Linked DNA regions of Homo sapiens. The protein of the gene in region 1 purifies or fractionates together with the protein of each later gene. This does not show direct contact. Each region holds a gene or a part of one and is shown on either strand. Other genes may lie near its edges.

What was found. The genes of interacting proteins can lie anywhere in the genome.
Region 2: the proteins of CPLX3 (region 1) and HEPHL1 purify together in Homo sapiens (affinity purification with mass spectrometry; 2 studies listed by BioGRID and IntAct, with this or other methods). This does not show direct contact.
Region 3: the proteins of CPLX3 (region 1) and SERPINB5 purify together in Homo sapiens (affinity purification with mass spectrometry; 2 studies listed by BioGRID and IntAct, with this or other methods). This does not show direct contact.

What each region holds. Positions count from the first base shown.
Region 1 is NC_000015.10:74,821,791-74,829,938, forward strand, and holds the start of CPLX3 (complexin-3), read left to right. Parts: upstream 1-4,836; 5' UTR 4,837-4,913; coding exon 4,914-5,077; intron 5,078-6,243; coding exon 6,244-6,331; intron 6,332-6,341; exon of another isoform or gene 6,342-7,098; intron 7,099-7,327; exon of another isoform or gene 7,328-7,911; intron 7,912-8,148. Other genes in the region: LMAN1L (protein ERGIC-53-like precursor), read left to right, coding at 39-110, 852-919, 1,769-1,892, 2,561-2,688, 3,686-3,815.
Region 2 is NC_000011.10:94,066,290-94,073,836, forward strand, and holds part of HEPHL1 (ferroxidase HEPHL1 precursor), read left to right. Parts: intron 1-681; exon of another isoform or gene 682-1,006; intron 1,007-1,145; exon of another isoform or gene 1,146-1,206; coding exon 1,207-1,461; intron 1,462-4,084; coding exon 4,085-4,253; intron 4,254-6,735; coding exon 6,736-6,875; intron 6,876-7,018; coding exon 7,019-7,150; intron 7,151-7,547. UniProt on the Homo sapiens protein: Is a copper-binding glycoprotein with ferroxidase activity. It oxidizes Fe(2+) to Fe(3+) without releasing radical oxygen species. May be involved in the regulation of intracellular iron content.
Region 3 is NC_000018.10:63,493,894-63,501,440, reverse strand, and holds part of SERPINB5 (serpin B5), read right to left. Parts: intron 4,500-7,547; exon of another isoform or gene 3,938-4,499; intron 2,322-3,937; coding exon 2,154-2,321; intron 1-2,153. UniProt on the Homo sapiens protein: Tumor suppressor. It blocks the growth, invasion, and metastatic properties of mammary tumors.

The DNA of each region.
Region 1 (8,148 bases):
TACACTCCAGGGCCAAGCCTCTCTGATCCTATCCCCAGGCCCTGGATGCTTCCTGCCAGATTCCATCCACCCCAGGGAGGGGTGGCCACCTCTCCATGTCACTCAATAAGGTAGGGACCCAAACACTGGGTGTTGACCAGCACTGGCCCCAGCTTGGCTGGTGCTCTGGGAGAACCAGGGCAGAGAGGACTGGGCTGGGCCTCTGCTTCCTTCAGGGGACAGAACCACTTTTAGAAGGGAGACGTATTTTGGCTTGGCATGGTGGCTCACGCGTGTAATCCTAGCACTTTGGGAGGCCAAGGCGGACAGATCACGAGGTCAAAAGACTGACACCATCGGGCAGATCACAAGGTCAAAAGATCGAGACCATCCTGGCCAACATGGTGAAACCCTGTCTCTACTGAAAATACAAAAATTATACAAAAATTAGCTGGGCGTGGTGGCATGCATCTGTAGTCCCAGCTACTTGGGAGGCTGAGGCAGAAGAATCGCTTGAACCCAGGAGGCAGAGGTAGCAGTGAGCTGAGATTGTGCCACTGCACTCCAGCCTGGCCGCAGAGCAAGACTCCATCTCAAATAAATAAATAAGAAGGGAGAAGTATTTTGAGAAAACCCTGAAGTGGCCACTGTTGGGAGGAAACAACCACCCCTGGGGAGAGGGGCGTGAGTGGAGGGGGAATGTGGATGCCCTTATGGATGAGGTCAGAGAAACACAGTGTGTCCAAATAAGGAGGCCCTGGTAATCTGGGAAGGCCTCTGGAAGGAAGAGGCTGCAGTGCCGCTGGGAAGGTGGGCTCTGAGAAGAGAGGGGCTATGTCCTGGGCCCTAGACAAGAGGCTGCCCCTCTGCAGGACTCTGCCAAGGTCGGTGCCCTGCTCCATGGACAGTGGACTCTGCTCCAGGCCCTGCAAGAGATGAGGTAAGGGACTGGGTGGGGACCCCTCCACCACCTTGTTTCTCCGCCTTAAGTTCCTCCATTAGCCCTTCATTCCTTCCATCATTTCCTGAGCGCCCAGCACACAGCCTGTCAATTGGAAGGGCTACTGGTGGAGTTAGGTTTGTTGAGTTGACTTGAATTTAATTGAATCAAGTTTAATGTTTTGCAAGTCCTAGTTAAAAAGCAATTCTCTCCTGGAGAAGCCCATCATGAAGGCCCCCTCAGACACTCCCACCCTCAGGAGGCTTAAGAAATCTGAGCATTCCTTCAATGGCAGCTCCTAGGATGAGGGGCATTTTGTTGGGGGCTCTTGGAGAGGGAGCACAGCCAAGATCAGACCAGTTGGATGAGACAGTCCCTGACTTGGTTTTGTGCCCCCATTAACTTCCCGGTATCCCACTCTAGGCCAGGCCTCTGGAGCCCTGGGGGTTGGGGGAGTCCTGGGGATGCTGTGGAGGAGGCATGCATCCCAGGCTGAAGCCTAAAGCCCCACCTGTACACACACAGCTAGATGCCTAGGGTTGGGGGTGGAGAGGCACCTAGATGAGAAGAAGGAAAGGAGTTAAATCCCCAGGGGCTGGGAATGGAAGGCAGAGCCGGGGAGCCTGGGGTTGACACAGATAGCTTTAGGGAGATCTTTATCTGAGCTAAAGTCTCAGGATCTAGGAAGAAGGTTGGAGGTGAAAAGACCAGCCCCCAAGAAGGGGCCCCATGGATGGTACCTGTTCCCCATCCATGTGCTGCCCTTGGGGAGATGGGAAATGATTAGGCCATCTGGGTGGAAGCAGAAGAGGTAATGAGTCATCTTACTTGGTTACCACCCCCGGTTAGGGATGCAGCTGTCCGCATGGCTGCAGAAGCCCAGGTCTCCTACCTGCCTGTGGGCATTGAGCATCATTTCTTAGAGCTGGACCACATCCTGGGCCTCCTGCAGGAGGAGCTTCGGGGCCCGGCGGTGAGGGGAAAGTAGTGGGCAGCATGGGGTCCCCAACCTTGACGTCTGGGCTCAGCCACCCTTCTTCCAGCACTTCAGCAGCCCCAAGCCCTCCTGCCTTTGCCCTCCCCTCCCAGGACTGCTGGCAAGCACATCTGTGCCTGCGTCAGTGTCTGTGTGTCCGTGCATACGTGCCACCACACATCTCATCTTTTCTCTGTCCTCTCTCCTCTCTGAAGAGTCCCACAGACTCAGCAGCAGCAGGGCCCTGGACACCCCTCGATCCAATATCCAATGACCAGAGGGGAAACAGGGTGGGCTGTGTCCAAGATCACTGAGTCCAGTGGTAGTCAGCGCTTCCCCATGCCCTGTCCCATCCTCGTTCCCTCGCCCTCACCCTGCTCACCCTGTCTTTGGCTCTTTACTTCTCTCTTCTCTTCTCTTGAACCCTGGGCCCCTTGATGATCCCAGGCCCCAGGCCTTCCCAGCTGTTCCCACAGATGCAGCCATGGGAGCTGGGGTGGGGGAGGCAGCTTTGTACACTGCCCCCTCTCCAAGTTCCCTGGATGAGAGCCAGGACGCCCCAAGCCTGGGGAAAGGAAACGGAGCATGCACATGGCCTAGATTCCAGGTCCCCCACTCCTTCTGGGTAAGAAGCTAAGCTAGGACCTTAGACTTTCCCCTTTCAGAAGGCAGCAGCCAAGGCCCCCCGCCCACCTGGCCAGCCCCCAAGGGCCTCCTCGTGCCTGCAGCCTGGCATCTTCCTGTTCTACCTCCTCATTCAGACTGTAGGCTTCTTCGGCTACGTGCACTTCAGGTGGGCCACCCCGTGAGCAGGATTTCCCACAGCACTGGCATCTCTTGGTTCTCAGCTATAACCATTGGATTTAGGAGAGGGGACACTTCAGCTCAGAGGGGACCTGCCGAGTCCCCAAATCACAAAGAGCACAGTGCGGGATAGGGCCCATTCTCTCACCAAGCACTACTGACCACCTGCTCGGCCCCCAGCCCCATCTGGGTCCTGCTCTCACGGAGCTCACTCACACAGGTCTAACTGACCCTGTGTCGTCAATGCCATGATGTCAGGAAGCTGAGGGGCTACGAGAGTGCAGGAGAACACACTTGACCCCCCTTGGTTAGGGAATCAACCTGGAAGGGACATTTGATATGGTCATTAAGGTGACTAGGAGTTTTCCACCCTGACAAGATAGGTAAAGGCATAGAGGCAGAGGGAACAGCATGAGAAAAGGCAGGGAGGCATGAGAAAAACATAATATTTTAGAGAAAAAGTGGCAAGTTCAGTAATGTTGGAGCAAAGGGCAGGACGAGTTTGTGAAATTGGGCAAAGAGATCTGAAAAAGTGAGAGGAGGTCACTAGTTTTGCTTGGTGTGTGTTTGCTGAATGAACGTGCACCGTTTAGAGATGTGGGGTGTGCTAAAGGCCTCAGCAATGAGACTGACAATCTTTGTTGGTGGAATTTCAAGACAAGAAGAGTCCGTGTGGGCTGGGATGGTCCTGGAGGAGGAGTAAAATGAGCTAAGCTTTAAAAAGCACAAGGTAGAAATGCTCACAGGCTTCAGCACATGCACAGGAGTGCAGTGGTGGCAATCAGCCTGGAGCCACTAGGACAGACCTTACATGCCCAGGGGGAAAGCGTGGACCATATGCAGCGGGCCAAAGGAGCCACAGAAAGTCCAAGAACAGCGGAGGTTGTGGTGCAGTGAGTGTAGCAAGGCAAGCATGAGAGTCCTGGTTTTTCAAAAGCCCATAAAGGAGAGACGCAAGTAACCTGTAACCTTCTCTCTGGCAGCAGGCAGGAGCTGAACAAGAGCCTTCAGGAGTGTCTGTCCACAGGCAGCCTTCCTCTGGGTCCTGCACCACACACCCCCAGGGCCCTGGGGATTCTGAGGAGGCAGCCTCTCCCTGCCAGCATGCCTGCCTGACCCACCTCAGAGCCTGCTTTGCATCACTGGGAAGCAGGCAGTGTCTTGGGTGGGGGCTTGGTCAGTATCCTCTCCGTCTGGGTGCCCAGCTCCCACGCACACCTGAGCTTTCGGCATGCTCCCACCTCGTTAAAGGTGATTTCCCTCTCCCCATGCTGTGATATGCTGGTCTTCTTTCCAGCCTCACCCTAATCTCTGTGAAGGCTTCCACCCCTTCTGAGTACCTGGCTGGGAGTGCGCTCCAAGCAGGCAAGGAGGCCAAGGCCTGGCTTAACCTCCAAAAGACCGGATACCCCACGGGCTTTGAACCCTCGACTATGGAGGGAAAGAGAGCCATGACTGTATATAATTCTGTCCTCAAACTCACCCATAACAGAGAGCAGTGTCTCCCAGTGTCCCTCCTGGCCCAGCTCAGCCAGCATCACTGAGCAGCTCTCTCCCTCCCCACTCCTAGCTGCTCCAGGGGCAGCAGGGGAGGCGCGTGACAGAGCAACCCTGAGAGGCCAACTCGTGGAACCATAACTGGGATTCCCGCTCGCGCCCTCAGGTCTCCCTCCCTTTTCCAGCGTCAAGCTCTCTGGGCAGCTGCTGGGTTCAGTGACTTGGGTGGGTGGGGAGAATGGGGGGCACCCAAGGCTGGGTTTTTACCCCTTGCTGCTACCTGGATCTCCCAGCTGAAATCCTAGTTATTAGTGGCCCAGGAGAGGAGAAAGTTGGAAGAGGCTATGGAACAGGGTTCCGGGAGTGTATGAGCTCAACCCCTCTCCCGGGAGAGCGACCCCACCACCGCAGGCCCTAATCCTCTGTCAGCAGTGCCCAGCGGAGCTCGGCGTTGAAGGAGGCACGTGGGGGAGGCGGGAGTGGGGAGCGGGCACGTGGTCCAGCCTTCTCAGCCCCGTGCTGCCCCCCGCCCCCAGTGAGGAGGGGTTTGGGGAGGTGGGGGCGGGCCCGGGCGGGGGCGGGCGGCGGGCGGTGCCAAGCGTGGGGCGCGGGCCCGCGGCGGGAGCTGTCCGCGAAACCTAGTGCTGAAGTAGGCGCGGACGTGCCCGGTGCCTGGCGCGTGGTAGCAGGCGCCCGGTGCCCCGGCCGGCGAAGACCATGGCGTTCATGGTGAAGACCATGGTGGGCGGCCAGCTGAAGAACCTCACTGGGAGCCTGGGAGGCGGCGAGGATAAGGGAGATGGGGACAAGTCGGCAGCCGAAGCTCAGGGCATGAGCCGGGAGGAGTACGAGGAGTATCAGAAGCAACTCGTGGAAGAGAAGTGAGTGGGATCCCTTCCTGGCTCCAACGACCTCCCCTCCCCACCCCCACAGCTGCTCAGTCCATCCCCGGGCCAGCCTCAGGTCCCAATCCCTTCTCCCCTACTTTCCTAGACACGGTAAGAGACCGGGAGGTGTCCTCTACACTGCCCCCAGACCCATCCTATCTGACACCCAAAACCCCGCTCCAGCATCATGCTCCGGCCAAGGGGGAGTGGGGGGAGGGGCGACCGGACGAGGGACCGACCGGAGCCTGGGACGAGGAAGGGGGTGCACGTGCGTTTCTGACGAAACGATAATCCCTTAATCCGATCTGGTCCCAGCCGCCTATGTCTTCCAACTGGGGCTCCTCTGAACTTGAGGCTCTGAAAAAAGTGGTGCAGCCGCTCAGAGTCGCGGAGACAGACCCTGAGATGGGGGCACTCACAAACATTGAGCACTTGTGTGCCCGCAGTGCTGGGACAGAGTTTGGGGCTGGACTCTGCTGCTAGGCTACTTGGGTTCAGAGCCTGGCTTTGCCTATTAGCTGGATAACTTTAGGCAAGTTACTTAACCTTTCTGTGCCTCTGTTTCCTTTTCTGGAAAGTGGGGATGGTAATCATAATACATGCCTTGTATATTTATGAAGATTAAATGCCAATGCATGTAAACTGTTTAGCACAGCACCTGGCACATGATAAAGTCTCATAAATGATAGCTATTATTTCGCTCAATCCTGATAACAGTTTTGTGAGTTGCAAAATTTTATCCCCATTTTACAGAAGAGGAAGGTAAGTGACTTACCTAAGGATATACCTAAAATGGTAGTGGAGCTGGGATGTGAACCCAAGTTTGGCCTGAATACTTTTCCCCACATGACATAGCTTGTCAGTGAGGGAACAGCAGACCAAGTTGGAGGCCATGAGGGACAAATAATTAGGATCTGCAGAGAGAGCCAGACAGACTGCCACCCTGGTTCCCTAGTTCCATCCAGTGGCAGAGACGACAAAGGGCACTGTGATGGGCAGAGGCAGCAGAAACCTGGATGTCCGGGTTGGAGCGCTTTTGCTACACACAGGGACCAATGCAGCAGCTGCTAGGACTCAGAGACCCCTTCTGTCCCTCCCTCGAAGACCTCAACCCCCTTCTCTCAGCCCTCGTGGTGACTCTGCCTCCGGTGACCCTGCAGGATGGAGCGGGATGCACAGTTCACACAGAGGAAGGCAGAGCGGGCCACACTGCGGAGCCACTTCCGAGACAAATACCGGCTACCCAAGGTAAGCTGGCCCCGGCTGTGAGGCACATCTGGGACCCTGAGCTCTGGGTTCTGGACTCCTTCGCCCCATTCTGGGCACCACAGCCCTCAGCTATGAGACTCACAGGGTATTTGGTTAGATCCTTCCTTCTCATTCATTTGTTCTTTTATTCATTCACTCACTCGTAGTTAAATCTGTGCCCACCAAGGGCCAGGGCTTTGTGCTGAGGGGACCCCAGTCCTCATGAGACTGACAGGTCTGTATTTCTGGAGCCAATCTAGGCCTCTTCTCTCCTCCACCCCCCATATCCCCACCAAGCCTGGGCCAGGCCTGGGCAGAGGAAGACACAGGGGAGGCAGAAATCAGTAGATTTGACTGCAGAGGTGAGTGTTCTGGGGGTTTCTGAACCTACTGAAGGGCAGAACTTACTTAAGGTGGGGGAGAGAAGCCCTGTGTGTGCCAAGTACTTGACCTTCATGTCCTCATCTAACCCCCAATAATGCTGCCAGGCAGCTATCACCCACAGCGACAAAAGATGAAACTGAGGCTAAGAGAAATGGAGGGACTTGGCTAAGATCATACAGCCAGTGAGCCATGGAGCTGGGACCAGCCCTCAAGCCGGTGAATATGAGCCTGCCTTTGCTCCAGGGCCCCAGGCTGCTTTCCAGAGTATGGAGTCTGCCCGTAGAGAGCCAAGTACCCCCTTGGCCGGCCAAGCAGCCAGAGAGTATATCTCAGGAGATCCCTGCCCCCACGCTCCCCTGGGCAGTGCACCACCAGATGGGCGTGTAAGTGTGCTGCTCCTGTTGTCTAAGGAGGGGAATGAAGCACAAATCTCTCCCAGAATATCACCCTAGTGCATCCAGAACTGTGCTGGACTCAGGGGAAAACAGCACAGGGCTATAGCGCTCCTGATTTTGATCTTCCACTTGAATTGAATGACCAAATATATGAACATCACATTCACTCATTCAACAAATATTTACTGAGTCCCCAGCTGCTTCTGACTCCCCACAGGGCACCAATCTTTTGGAAATCTGTCACGGGGAAAAACCGGTCCAGAAAGCCTGCCTCACTGCAAACTCTTCTAGGAATAAAATCATTCCTCAGATGCTTGCGCTAGGCATATAAGAGACACCTGCCATCAGCAAAGTCAGAGTTGAGCAGAAGAGCCAAGACTTGGATGCAACTGAGTAGGACATAAGGCGCCCCCCAGAAGAATAGTGAAGGGCAATGGTCATCGTAGGTGCCATGCAAAAAAACACAGATGTTGGAATCAGTGACATAGGTTTGAATCTAGCTCCCCAACATCCTGCCTGTGTGATCTTGGATAATTTAAGTTACTTAAGTTACTTAAGTTAGTTAAGTAACTTAAATTTAAAGTAAGTTACTTAAATCCTGTAAGCCTCAATTTCCTTATTTGTGAAGTGGAAATAACAATACCTACCTACCTCACAGGGTTATTGTGAGAATTAAAAGCACCCAGCTCAACGTCTGCCATGTAATAGATATAATAGATGTTTGATAAATGGTACCCATCACTATTTTTGGTTACACCCTTAAGCATAACAAGAGTCAAAACATGACTTAGCTGACTGTAACAGTGTGACTCATAGGTATTTTCATTTTGTCTTTACTCACTGTGCTGGTCCTTCAGCATCTCAGAGTGAAATAAGGTAATATAAAAAGGTCTCCATGTCCAGGCATCAAACGCTTGATCCTGGGATGTGGGGGTGGGAGCTGAGCTCACTGGAACATGGGGCTCAAGAATCTAAGGGGCCGGGCACAGTGGCTCATTCCTGTATTCCCCCGGCACTTTGGGAGGCCAAGGTGGGCAT
Region 2 (7,547 bases), on another chromosome or scaffold:
CACGCCTGTAATCCCAGCACTTTGGGAGGCCAAGGTGGGAGGATCACTTGAGGCCAGGAGTTCAAGACCAGCCTGGCCAACATGGCAAAACCTGTCTCTACTAAAAATACAAAAATTAGCTGGTCATGGTGGTGGGCACCTGTAATCTCAGCTACTGGGGAGGCTGAGGCACAAGAATCTTTTGAACCCAGGAGACAGAGGTTGCAGTGAGCTGAGATTGTGCCACTGCACTTCAGCCTGGGTGTGACAGAGCGAGACTCCATCTCAAAAGAAAAAAAAGAGAGAGAGACTGGAAAAAGAGACCTAATCAAGTAAAGGAAAAAATTTAATTAAAAAAATCTAGACTATGGAAGATAATTAATATGTACAAGTTTTATTGATCAATTTATTTAAATTTACTAAAATAATTTAGAATTAATTGTGCTGCCTAAGTCATCAGGCATTTCAGCAACAATTGCTTTTAACTCAGTTCGAACTTAAGAAGGGATATTGTGACTTTTTAAAGCCCTGAATCAAGTTCTTTTCTGAACTTGGTCAACTCCCAGCTGCCATTTAGATGGTTTTAAAGTATTCGGTCCTGGATTTACGCCATAAACTTAATAAGATTCTGCTCCAGCAACATGTAGTAAAAACTGTTTTTCTCTTGGCTTTTTAAAGTAAACAAACAAACAAACAAAACAGTTCTCATAAATTCCTTTTAATCAATTCCTTTTCTTTCCATCTTACTACATGCTTTTGTCACTTCATTAAGTAGATACTATGTGCCAGTTTTTCTGCTAGGTCCTGATAACTGTTAAGATGAACAAGACAGGGTTTCTAGTTCCAAGGAGCACAGAATCTGGTGAAGACAGCAGATATGCCAGTGAAGGATTATGACAGAAGGTGACTGAGCCTCCTGTAAATATGAGCAGCACTCTGTTTTCTCCTGACCTCATATTGCGTTCCCACAGCAGCTCCGAGGCTGTTCTCAGTGTATGCTGATCTTCACTTTTATTGAGTGTTTTCTCTGGAAAAAGGCCAATAAAAACATTTCATTTCTCTTTTGGACAATATATATTTCTAAGAGCCAGGTTTTTCTGCACCAAAACCTTACAACCAATGGTCTGCACTGGTTTTCCAGCCATGCTTAAGCCCGTATTACCAACATTTCTGGTCCCAGTCGCCTCTGCAGGGGAGTCTCTTCCACTAGCGTGTTTCTGTTTCCAGCCCTCAATGGATACCTCTTCGGAAACTTCCCGGAGCCTGATATGTGTGTTGGAGAATCTGTGTCCTGGCACCTATTTGGAATGGGGAATGAAATAGACATCCATTCTATCTATTTCTATGGTAACACCTTCATCAGCAGAGGGCATCGGACTGATGTCGTCAACCTGTTCCCAGCCACCTTCCTTACAACAGAAATGATAGCCGAGAATCCTGGGAAGTGGATGATAACCTGCCAGGTCAGCGACCACCTACAAGGTAAAAAGGATAAAGACCAGAGTTGATATGTTTAGAATGGTACAATCAAACCACACAGTCACTAGTGCTCATCCAGTACCTACTGTTAGATAGAGCCTTGTATGTACTATATTTAATTAGGTAATAAATATACAGGAAAATATAACGCTCATCTCTTTGATATTCTATCAACAGATATTTATTGACCACTTCTGTATGAAAAAAGTGGGGAAGTGATTAAAAATTGATGAGACCTTCGAGGAACCTGTAGTATAGTTGTTAGACATAGTTAGACATTCACAAAATGAATACGATTTAAGGCAGAATGAGATAAATGCTCTTTGGGTGTTGCAGTCACTACTCTGGAGCAATCAGAGGGGCTTCCTGAGGAGCTGGCTCCTAACATGAGCCTTGAAATATGAGTAGGAACTGAATAGATGAAGAAGGAAAGAAAGACTTTTGAGGAAGCAGCATGAACTGGGAAAAACACATGTTCTTTTTGAGCAACTGTAAGTAGAGTAATAAGGTTTTAGCACTGGAAAGGACTTTCTGGATAATAAGGACCAATCCCCCCTCGAATTATTTAATTTCGTTTTGAACATCTCTTGTGAGTAGTTATAGCAGCTCATCTCATCTCTGGACTGCTCTATTGGAATGTTCTTCCTCAAATTGAGACAAAATCCATTGACCTATAGCTTCCTTCATGTCCTATGATAGGTGCATGATAAACATTTGTTGGCTTAAATGCCTGTTGAATGACCTGGTCCTGGTTTCTTCAGACATCATACACTATGTCCTTTCTTAGCTGGACCATAATGTTCCTTACAGAGAAGTGATGACAGAAGAGCCTGGGAGGCTCATCAGGCCCCTTAGCAAAGCTAAGGAGGTGGGGCTGTGTGATCCTTAGCTCTTTTGGCACACTAGTGACATAATCGGTGCAGTTATTTAAGAAGATAAATGTATGCATGCAAGAAGGACTTGATGGAGGAATTCTGACCACTGGATGCTAGTTAAGAAGCATTTGACAGTGTTAGAGGTCTAACACCTAAACGTCTGCCCTAAGATGATGAAACCAAGACAGAAAAAATATGTTAATGGAATAGACACAGAAGAAATAATGTCTGATATTTGGATACTAACTTCCCATAGTCACTAATAGGTGCAAAGATCCAGCTGCTCAGGGCTGCTTTTGTAACACATTCTTGTTCCTGTCCACCTTCCACAGTGAGTCATAGCATTAGTCAACTGCAGTATCCCAATTACATTCAACTGAAAAATTAATCAGTTAATATGTACTAGATGCTCTTCTGGGAAAACAAAGATTAACAAGAGAAGGTTTCTATTCTCAAAGAGTCTTATGCTGTTAAATCTGGGAAGAAACTGTAGATTTAAAATCAAGATATTAGCTGCCATTTGAGACTAGTAAGATCGCTAAATTAGCCCGATAGTTGTGGACATAAGCTAGTATTTATACGTTCCCTGAAATACAGTATTTCTAAATTGTCCATGCCTTCAGAAAAAAGTTATTGTAAAAAAATTAGAAAATACATATAATTGGAGGTTTTTTAACAAATAGAGACAGGGTCTTGCTATGTTGCCCAGGCTGGTCTCAAACTCCTGGGCCCAAGCAATCCTCCCACCTTAGCCTTTCAAAGTGCTGGGATTATAGGCATGAGCCACTGGATCTGGCCCCTATAAATTGGTTTTAAAATCAGTAGTTCCATAATAGAAATATTTTATATTCACATTTTGGTGAATATCTTCCCTATTTTCTATTTCTTAATATGTAAATATATATGTATTTTAAAAAATGAAATCAGTCTATTAATGCTGCACTGTAGCTAATTTTTCTCATTTACAAATATATCAGAAACACATTTTCATGTCGGTGAATATAGAGCTTACTTCATCATGGTTAATACTTCCAGTGTCCATTATAAGGAGATTACATCTTGCTTAATCAATACTCTATTGCTTAATGCTTATGTTTCCCACCAATTTTTTTGCTATTATAAACAGCACTGATGACTATTATTTATAGATGTTTGCACTTTTGTCTGAACATTTTCTTAGAAAAACTCCTAGATTTAGAATTTCTGGGTCAAAGAGTATGATTTTTTTAAAAAAGCTATGGACATACATTGCCACATTCTCTTTTGGAAATTGTTATTCTTCTACACGAAGTGTATGAGTATGGCTCTTTCCCCATTCATCTACCAACACTGAGAATTATTAGTCTTTCTAATCTTTACTAATCTGATCAATGAACAATAGTATCATTTGAAAACTGTTAAGGTTTGAGTACTATTTGAGTACTGTTAAGGTTGAACCTCTTTTTCATTTGTTTATTGGCCAATATTATTTATTTTGTGAATAAACTATTTCTGTTCCTTGCTCATTTTCTATTGGAGATTTACTTGTTTTCATCTTTATCTGTAAAAGTGATTTACGTATTAATCTTTTGTCATATGTGTCACAAATATCCCTCCTGTTGCCATTTATCCTTTTTAAAAAAACTTTCTTTATGGTCCAATTTTCTGTACAGAAGCCTAAATGTTCAAGAGCCAAATCTATCAGTCTTTTCCTATATGATTCCTTTTGTGATCATTTATGCCTCAGCTCGTGGTTTTCCTCTGTTCTGCAGCTGGTATGCTGGGGCAATACAATGTTGATAACTGCAAAAGTGATATTTTCTACCCCAAGATGAAGGGTCAACAGAGGCGCTACTTTATAGCAGCTGAAAAAATTCTTTGGGATTATGCTCCTCAAGGCTATAACAAATTCAGTGGTCTTCCTCTAAACGCCTCTGGCAGGTAAGCACCCTTTGTTGGTGTTTCTAAGCCTCTCGTCAGAGAAGCATGTGTTAGGCTTTCTCTGTGATCTAATTTGTATTCCAACCACTGCTCTGATGAGCTTATACTGCATAGATGGCATAATGTAGCTGCTTAAGGTGTTCTTAATACTGCAAAAGCACTGCTGAGAACTGGTAGAATATTTTTTGTTTTGTGACTTGACGGCTGAATCAAAACACTAGATCATTCACTCATTGATCAAACATTTCTTGAGTAGGCACTATGTGCAAACTATAGTGCAAAGTGCCATTAGAAATACTAAGCTGACAAAGAATAGAGTAAGGCCTTTACACATATGGAGCAGACAGTCTTGAAGAGGGAATGACAGGAGATGGAGATGACCTGGCCTAAGAGGGTTACCCTTTTTGGTTCAAGGATATCCTGATTTAAGTTGTGTCCCCTTTATGTCCTACAAATATTCTTTTCCTTTCTATTCAGTAAAATGCCATTTTTCTTTCAAAGCCTTACTCTAATGTCACCTCTGAAGTGAAACCTTTGACTCTTGATATAAATGAATTATGTTCTCTCTGCGCTCCCATAGAATATACTATTTAAAAAATTAATCTAGCAATTTATTAGGTGGATCTGGACTCCTGTGACTTGTTAGTATATAATCATATGCAAAGTTGTCTGTGAAGATACTAAAAAATGTACAGTGTGATATCAAGAATCCTTTTTTATATTTAAGGGAATGTTTTAAAAATTCTCTTTGTGATCAATAAAACATCATTTGTTTCTTTAATTGTACATTTTATTCATTCATTCATTCATTCATTCATACTTTCACTCATTATTCTACCAAACGGATGCACTTGAACCCTGTCTAAAGAATTTGTGTGAACCATATGTGAAAGACTCTGATATCAACATTCTCTATTGACTAGTATTTCTCCATAAACAGAATAATGAGAATTAGCATTCAAAATTGTCTTAGGAGCCTTCTAGAATTCTGAAGTGCCTTCTGAAATAGGAAAGATTAAACTATATTCAATCAATGTTTAATGTGATATATGAAAGCACAAAGTGCAAGATGACATGAGGGATGCAAGGATATCTAAAGCAATAAAATGCAGAGGAAGAAGCTGGGTTCACAAGAGTAGAGAAGTAACTGCAAGTTACAAATAAAAGTGAGGTGAGTTGTCCTGGTAGTGAGTTATCTGGATGCTCAGAGAGAGCTAAGCTGGCCAGGGAACACATTATAGAGGAAGTGAGACTTAAGCAAAATCTTAAGGAGTGATAGAATTTATTTAACTGAATAGGGAAGAGAGGAATTTTAGATGGAGGGGTTGATGCAAAGCACCTGTGGCATGGGAGGAATGAACAGATGAGACTGCAGTAACAATTTGCATAGAAGAATGGGCACTGGCATGGAGAAATAGAGAATTGGGGTAAACGGGATATCAATTGCAGAGGTCCTTTAATCTTTTTGAACATTATTTGATTGGCAATTGGAAGCAATTGAAGATTTTGGAGCAGGTAAATAGCAATAACAATTGCCATTTTGGAGATTAATGTATTAAGTGAAAAAATAAGCACAGTCTTGGCCATTGAAAGTAATTTGTAATCACGGTCTTGGCCATTATGACCATTATGGCTTACTTTTGCACCAATCTAATAGTTGTGTGTCTATGCTGAGAAGAAAAGTGAATGAGCCAGTATCAGATAGAGGATGCAGTTCAGAGGTTCATATAATGGGCTCCACCCAGTGTGATTAGGGCATGAACTGGGGTCGTGGTAGTGGGAAGAAAGGAAAAGAAAAGATGCACAAGGAGGATAGAAAAGGAAGAGTGCCAAAAAATTTTACAAAGTAAGGATGAATGAGTTAAGGGAATGAAGCAGAAAAAGAAAATCTACGTGGCTGCAAGAGTGATGGCACCATTGATGGAAATAAGATAGTATAGAGACAGTATTAGTCAGAATTTATATTATCATATTCACGACTTGGAAATTTTGCATTTCATGCATATGGTTTATATGGTAGCCCTCCAATAATTACACTATTTGATTAACTAGACACTCCATTCCTTAATAATGCCAGAAATCAAAGAGCTTACTAGATGCAGAGAATATTCATATTAATATCAGCAAGAGAGAGAGGGATGCTTATTCTGCAGAGAAACCAGTTAGCTCTTTGTTACTTTGTAGAACACCATTCTGGAACTCTACTATTGGTAAATAAGGAGTTTACTTGTGACTGGTTCAGTGCTGGACCTCTTGGGAAGAAAGTACAATGGCTGAGAGAAATGAGCTTGAGTATCACCCAGCCTCTGAAGACTTTTAGGGCTGGTTAACTATTCCTGGGAACTCTGTCAAGGCCTGTGCTGTCTTTTCTGGGGACATGGGTGGGCGAGTGGACTAAAAGTGATAGAATGAAGTTCTATAATTAAAGTATTTGGTGGATATGTTGAGAAGTGTCCTCAATCACATTCCTATGTCTTTTCAGTGACTCTGATCTCTACTTCACACAAGGGGACAACAGAATAGGAGGAAAATACTGGAAGGTTCGGTATACTGAATTTGTTGATGCAACTTTTACTAAAAGAAAGAGACTCTCTGCTGAAGAAGCCCATCTTGGAATTCTTGGTACAGTAAAACCATCCCCCATGCATTGAACCCAGGGAGATGTTTTAGCTGGGCATGTACATCTGCACAGAATGACTCTTCTGCTTTACTTCTTTCTGTCTCTTTTCATTCTCTTCTCTCTCTTCTTCTGGATATTTTTTCAGGCCCAGTCATCAAGGCAGAGGTGGGTGATACCCTGTTAGTGACCTTTGCCAACAAAGCCGACAAGGTCTATAGCATTTTACCCCATGGTGTGATCTATGACAAGGCATCTGATGCAGCCCCAAACCTAGATGGTAAGTCTCACTCTGGGCTTAGGGAGGAAACAGGACGGGTGAGCAAAGCACTTAGAAATAAACAGTCCTGGTTCAAATCCTGGTCCTTTCCATTACCTGCCCTGAGAGCTTGGGCAATCACTTAAACTTTCTGAACCTGATTCTCTCCTGTCAAATGCAGATAACAATACTCACCTCACAGGGCTTTGGAAAGGGATGGAGAGAATTTAGGACAAGGTCTGGCCCATGGTAGGTTCTTAGGAAATGTTCATTTCTTTCTTTTTTTCTCAGCAATATAGTAAATCTCAAAAGTAAGCTACTTTCACAGTCACTTCTTTTTCTCTAAGATGGAGAGCTTTTCAGTTGCAGGTTGCATAGGATTCTGCAGGTGAAGGCTGAAGGGAAAATTTGATTTCTA
Region 3 (7,547 bases), on another chromosome or scaffold:
ATAGACTGGATTAAGAAAACGTGGCCCATATACACCATGGAATACTATGCAGCCATAAAAAATGATGAGTTCGTGTCCTTTGTAGGGACACGGATGAAGCTGGAAACCATCATTATCAGCAAACTATCACAAGGACAACAAACCAAACACTGCATGTTCTCACTCATAGGTGGGAATTGAACCATGAGAACACCTGGAAACAGGAAGGGGAACACCACACACCAGGGCCTGTTGTGGGGTGGGGGGAGGGGGGAGGGATAGCATTGGGAGATATACCTAATATAAATGACAACTTAATGGGTGCAGCACACCAACATGGCACATGTATATACATGTAACAAACCTGCACATTGTGCACATGTACCCTAAAACTTAATGTATAATTAAAAAAAAGAAAAATAAATTATTGAAATAAAAAAAGAAGAAGAAGAAGAAAATAATTGATGTTTATTGGAGGGCGTTTTAAGAACGAAAGGTAAAATCCAAGACAGCTGGATAATGGCTGAAAGATCAAAGCATAAAATGGAAAGAAAAAAAACAGAGAGAGTAATGCACCAAAGAAGAAGAAGGACAGGAATTATAATTCAGTTAATAAAGTGGTGGCTAAAACATAATGGCAACCAAAGGAGCAAGCTGGAGACTGGATGGTCCCCTGGAAAGTCAGCAAATCACTGAGGCCCATGTGGATATATAGCAAGTGATCCAGGCCTTCAAAGAGCCCCTTCTTCCTTCCTGGCCAAGGGTTGAGGCCAGGCGGGGTGGAGCTAGAATGGAAGCCAGGGAGGGACTAAAGGGAGAACAGGCCTCAGCCAGCTAAGCAGAGGTGAGGGAGCAGAGAGGAAGCTAAAACTCCATTCACCTGCAGAGAAAACTGCTACTCTTATTTAAACTTTGTGCCTTAAAAATCTATATAAATAAAATAATATAATAACCCTTATCATATAAAATAAAATACTTATATATAATGTGTACTATAAAATAGTATCTGCATAATTCAAAATTTTGAAGCATATATGTGTACGTATTAAAATCTCATAAATGTACAACACAAAGAGTGAACCGTAACGTAAATTGTGAAGGCCAGGTGTGGTGGCTCATGCCTATAATCCTAGCACTTCAGGAGGCTGAGGCTGAGGATTGCTTGAGGCCAGGATTTCAAGACCAGCCTGGACAACACAGTGAGATCCCACCTTTACAAAAAAAAAAAAAGCCAGGCATAGTGCTGTGTGCCTTTAGTCCCAGCTACTTGGGAGGCTGAGGCAGGAGGATCACTTGAGCCCAGGAGTTTGAGGTTAGAGTGAGCTACCATCATGCCACTGCACTCCAGCCTGCCCAGGAGTTTGAGGTTAGAGTGAGCTACCATCATGCCACTGCACTCCAGCCTGGGCAATGGAGCAAGACCCTGTCTCTAAAACAATAATAATAATAATAATAATAATAATAGTAATATGTCAGTATTGGCTCATCAATTGTAACAAACATACCAAACTAATGCAAGATGCTAATAACAGGTGAAACTGTAGGCCTGGGACGGGAAGGGGAGTATATGGGAACTCCTTGTACTTTCTGCTTATTTTTCTGTAGGCATAGATCTACTCTAAAAATAACATCTACTAATTTTAAAAAAAAAGAAAGAGCAAGAGAGAGGATGCTTGACATCAGGTCACATGATAGTGGACCTGGCAGTGCGTAGCAACGTAGTGCCTTAACTGCCTAGGAGGTGAGGGAGACACTCTAGCCTTCAGTTAAGAACCTGGCTCCAACTACCTGGGCCCAAATCCTGATCCTGCACACACCCTTGACTAATTATGTAACCAGTTACCCACCCCTCTGTGCCTCAGCTCCCTCACTGGTAAACAAGAGTGTGGTAACAGTCTCTAACTCATCAGCCTGCTGTAAGAATTAAATGAGATAATGCACGTAGGCAACTTAGCACAGTCCCTAGAACACTGTAAGTGCCAAATAAATTTTGGCTGTTGTTAATATTAAGGAGGAAAGGCCCCAGAAAGAACCATGGGTCCTTGGAGGTGACTGAGCCAGTGGCAATAAGGGAGGGCTACCGGCCCAGCTCTCACGGCCCACACAGACCTGTTGGCACAACTCTTTGCCAAGGCAGGGGGTGCCTTTGTGGAGAGCACCTGCCTTCTCCTTACCTTCTCCAAGCCTGTGGACTCATCCTCCACATCCTTGGGTAGTAGGATGAACATGCTGAGATGCTTATTTTGAAAAGGAAGCTCTATGATCTTACAATTGATACTGTCAATGTTTCCCATACAGAACGTGGCCTCCATGTTCATCATCTGCACTGGTTTGGTGTCTGTCTGTAAAAGGGAAAATTTGGACTGCTTACTTTTCAATTTACACATGCATAAATATATATATATATATATATACACACACGCGCGCACACACACACACATATATACCCACATGTATATATACAGACACACATACATATATACCTACACCTATATATATACAGATACACATACATATATACATACACCTATATATACACATATACATATATATGCATACATACATATACATACATATACATATACACACACCTATATATACACACTTATATATACATACTATATATATATACCCCATACATATATACACACATGCACATATATACACATATATAGGCAAACACATAAATATATATGTACATATATATATATACACAAATTTGCTCTTGACACAGTGTCAGATTATTATGGCTTATAATTCATCATCCACTCAGATCCAAACTGTATTGCACTGAAACCAGAGACTGTCCTGTGAAGAGTTTGTGTTCCTTTGAAAAGTTATTCATATACTTTATAATCTACATGTTACACATTACATGAAGTATATATAATACTGTATTTGCATAGATCAAACCTTAAAAATAAGACTGTATGGCTGTAAATATAGGCAACGTTTGTTATTCTTTACAGATGCCTATGAGATCTTTAAACTATTCCTGGTGGAGCTGACTTGAAAGTAAATTCTACTGCAAACCCACATAACCATTTATACGGCTTTTCCTAATAAAATGCCTAATTTCAAAAACTGGCTGGGCACGGTGCCTCATGCCTGTAATCCTGCACCTTGGGAGACCACTTGAGGTCAGGAGTTCAAGACCAGCCTGGCCAACATGGTGAAACCTTGTCTCTACTAAAAAATACAAAAGTCAGCCAGGCATGGTGGCACACGCCTGTAATCTCAGCTTCTTGGGAAACTGAGGGAGGAGAATTGCTTGAGCCTGGGAGCCAGAAGTTGGTGTGAGCCAAGATCATACCACTGCACTCACTCCAGCCTGGGCAACAGAGCGAGACTCCATCTCAAAACAAAACAGAACAATAACAACAACAAACTTAGCACATAGCAGAACAAAACAATATTTGTTGTGACCTCTCTGTTTGTCTTTGGTTTGAATTGCCCACTCCCCACTGTACTGCCACCTACTCAGATCTGAGCTAATTAACAAAGTCTAAATTGAAGATAAGAACCTTGGTTTTTAGTCCCAAATGTGACATAAACAGATTCTGTGGCCTTGAGCAAATCACTCAATCTCTCCAGGCCTCAGTATTCTTGTCAGTAGAATGAAGAAATTGTAAATTCAGAATAATGGTTACCACTGGGGAGGAAGAAAGAGGAACAGGACAGTGGAGTGAGCAGTGAAGGGATACATACAAAGCAATGCAACTGTTGTTATATTTTTTCTTTAAAATATCTGAAATAATTAAGGCAAAATATTAAGTTCAAAAAGATGATTGATCGGTATATGGGTGTTCGTTTTATTATTCTCTATCATTTTCTGAATGCTTGGAGTATTGCATAATTTTTAAAAAGGAAAATGTTCTTTAAAATTATCTCTAAGTCTTTTTAAAATTATCTCTAAGTCCCTTTGAGCTCCACTGTATGCTTGGCTCTTTTTTTTTTTTTTTCAGAAACGTTGTGTTCAATGGTAAAGCTTAGCACAGCCCAGCACCAAGAATGGTGTGCAGCCGCAGCAGCAGGGACAGGCAGGTGACCCCCACAGAGCTTCACATGGCGAAGAGGATAAGGAAGGCGACCATCAAACAGAAGAGCCCCATGGCCTCAGACAGGGCAAAGCCCAGAATCGCATAGGAGAAGAGCTGCTGCTTGAGAGATGGGTTCCTGGAATAACCAATGATCAAGCTGCCAAACGCTATTCCAATGCTAGCCCCTGAACCAACCACACCAACTGTGTCTGCCTCAGCACCAATAAACTTGGCTGCGGTGTCAATGTCCCAGGAGACAACCTGGTCTAGAACTCCTGTCTGGCCACACCTAAAGTGGGGAGCTGCTGTAGGAAGGCTGTTTAGATGAATGCTCTGGGCTATTCAAGAAGGAGGCAGACACAGGCCGGATTAGACCCCTAGTACAACAGCGGATCAGAGCTGGAGAAATAAGTAATGCCCCGGTGGGCTGCATTTTCTCAGTCTCCCAACTTTAGCCCTTGGTCTCTCCCTGCTCTTCTTAAAGGGAGCCCATGGAAGGGTCTGATCGTTCAGGTCTTTTATGTCCAAGCACTGCCCAGGCCTTTTCTTCTCTTTGCTCCTATTAACACCTGGCCTCCTGTCTCTGCTCCAGAGATGACTGATTTCCTGAAGGAAAATTAATTCACGCTAAGTTGTAAAAGACTGACAGTAATGTTGTATAACCTATTGACATATACCTCCCATGGGATATTTGCCTGTTAACTAAATCTCTTTGGGGAGAAATTTCAAACTTCATATCAAGCCTGCAAGGATAATACTCCAGTAAACTTGCATCTGGTATCTTCAAATACTAAGCTGAACCTTCCCCAATACCTCTCTCCAGCAGAGCTAAACGTTATTTATTTTACTTTTGTATATACCTCTATTTTAACACTTGCCACAGTGTTAGAAATATTATCTAGTGATTGTCTTTCCACTTCCCACCCCAACTAGAATACAGTCAAGGCAGAAACTAAGTCTCATTTTCTACCCCAGCTTGTAGTTTCTCACTGAATATTTGGCTGATAAATAATGGAAGACTTCAACTCTATGTGTAACCAAAAACAGAATTATAGGAAAACATACTACTTTGGAGGTTAACAGATAATTCTTCCCTTTATTTCTCCTAAAGAGGATATTGTCTTAAAATATATTCCTCCTAAAGAAATTTGTCTAAAAATCTCCAACAGGTTAGACTGCTCATAGTTTCTGAATGTGCACATAGTTGTGGCCTCCAAAAACTGTCATCAATTTCACTTATCGGCACTGACTACAGGTACTTTATTTTCTGAAACACATGTTGAGACGACATATCTTCTGAAAAGAGGACCAAATAAAGACTATCTACCCCAGAAAATATAATACAACATATATACTAATATAGATATATATGGATAGATATCTTTATCAGAATAAGTACTATACTAAACTTTTAATGATATAACTTCACCAATTTAGTCTAACCCTTACCGGAGACACCACGGGGCATAAGAAAAGGTTTAGTAATGTCACTCAAAAAGTTCTAGGGTGGACAAAGCAATTCAAAGAAAACAAAGGAGAAGTAATAGCATCTGCATTCAAAAGAAGGGTGTAGCCTCATGCAGCTGTGAATAGCATTTTATTGCTTTATCAAGTGAAACACTGAGAGATCAATGACATTTCAAACTTTTATTAATTCTGTTCATAAAGGCTGAGTTTCCAGGATCTTATATAACCCAGCTTTATGATTTAATAGCAAGAATAAAGGAATAGCACACATTCTTCCTCCCTTCTCAAAAAACACACGTTAATACTTTCTTAATGAAAAAAGTACGACCCTTAGTGTGGTTGACACAAAAGTCCACATTCTACTCATTGACTATTGCAACATTTTCATGGTGTTCCTTCCAGGCTGGCTCTGGGGTCTTGAAGAGAGGCACCATTGGCAACCTGTTTCAGATTTCACTTAAACAGAGTTAGGAACCCTTTGCCAGCCCTTGCTATGGAGGAGAGCCAATCACTAATCAAAGGAGCCAGAAGGGTCACTCTATGACAGCAAAGGCTGTGTGGATGCCGTCAGGGCCAGTGGGGCCAACACCCCTCCCTAACTCACAGTAGAGGCTGGGTAAAGTCACGTTCCACTTCCACTCCAGATAAAAGACAATACTGAGAAGGTCAAAAAGCCATGCTTAAAACTCAAGGACCTGTGTGTGCAAAACACAAGAGTGTGAAGAGCATAAGCTATGTCTCTAGAATCTCAGACAGACCTCTTGTGTGCAGGGTCAATCCTGTCTCTGCAGTCAGCTTTGAGAAGACCACTGCAGTTGGGAAGCTAAACTCAGGAAGTTAGGAGGACCTCCTACCCATCCCTCAGCTCCCATGGATATTTTGAGTTGGTAAGGAGCAGTAACAGTCATCATTGTCTTCTCCCAGTGAAAATGCCCAATGGGTCTTGCATAGGAAACCATGGTAGTCCCAAAGGCCAGTCAGGTTTTGTCTGCTATTGATTGTTTAAGCAAACTGACCCTTAGGGACTGATCATTCATTCAGCAAATTTGCTGAGCACCTACTGATGTGTTAGGGACTTGGCCAGAAATTGTAGACACTGAGGTGAATAAGGCATTGTCCCTACCTTAAAAATCCCATGCGCTAGTAGGGGATCTATGTAAGTAAACAGATTTCACTGTGGAAAAGCAAATTCTGGCAGTGGACAGGGGAGAGTATGAATAAAAATTCCATGGGAACAAAGAAAGAAAGAGTAATGGAAGCCATCCGGCTAACCCAGGCATAGATTGTATCTTGCAGGGCTTTTCCTCATGGATGCTAGCATTAAGAAGGTGCTACTATATTTGGCAAAAACAAGATATTGATGCTAAGTACTCTAACTACTGGGAGAAGCATGAAAACTAGAACTGACGCGTAGGAGCTACAGGTAACTAAGCTACCTTCAAGTATTGTACTAACTGAAGTGCTGCTTCCAGTCTAACACAAGTCAGATCCCACCCACGGAGACCACATCACATCATCATATAGATGTCTGGGTTTTCCAATAAAATGGGTCAAATTTCCAGTCTCAGTTCCTTGATCTCATTTACAAAAGAGGTACTTTACCCATTTCTTTTTTTTTTTTTTTTTTTTTTTTGAGATGGAGTCTCACTTTGTCACCCAGGCTGGAGTGCAGTGGCACAATCTCAGCTCACTGCAACCTCTGCCTCCTGGGTTCAAGCCATTCTCCTGTCTCAGCCTCCTGAGCAGCTGGGATTACAGGCACATGCCACCATGCCCAGCTAATTTTTGTATTTTTAGTAGAGATGGGGTTTTACTATGTTGGTCAGGCTGGTCTCAAACTCCTGACCTCGTGATCTGCCTGCCTCGACTTCCCAAGGTGCTGGGATTACAGGCATGAGCCACTGTGCCCACCCTCTATTAATTATTTAACATATTTACTTCAACAGTATCAATGAGACTGGCCTGCAAAACAGGCCCTTAATTCTTCCCATAATGACTTCCAGTGATGTCAATGAGTAAGCCATACTTTGTTTTTTCACAGCCAACAAGTGCCTGAAAGCA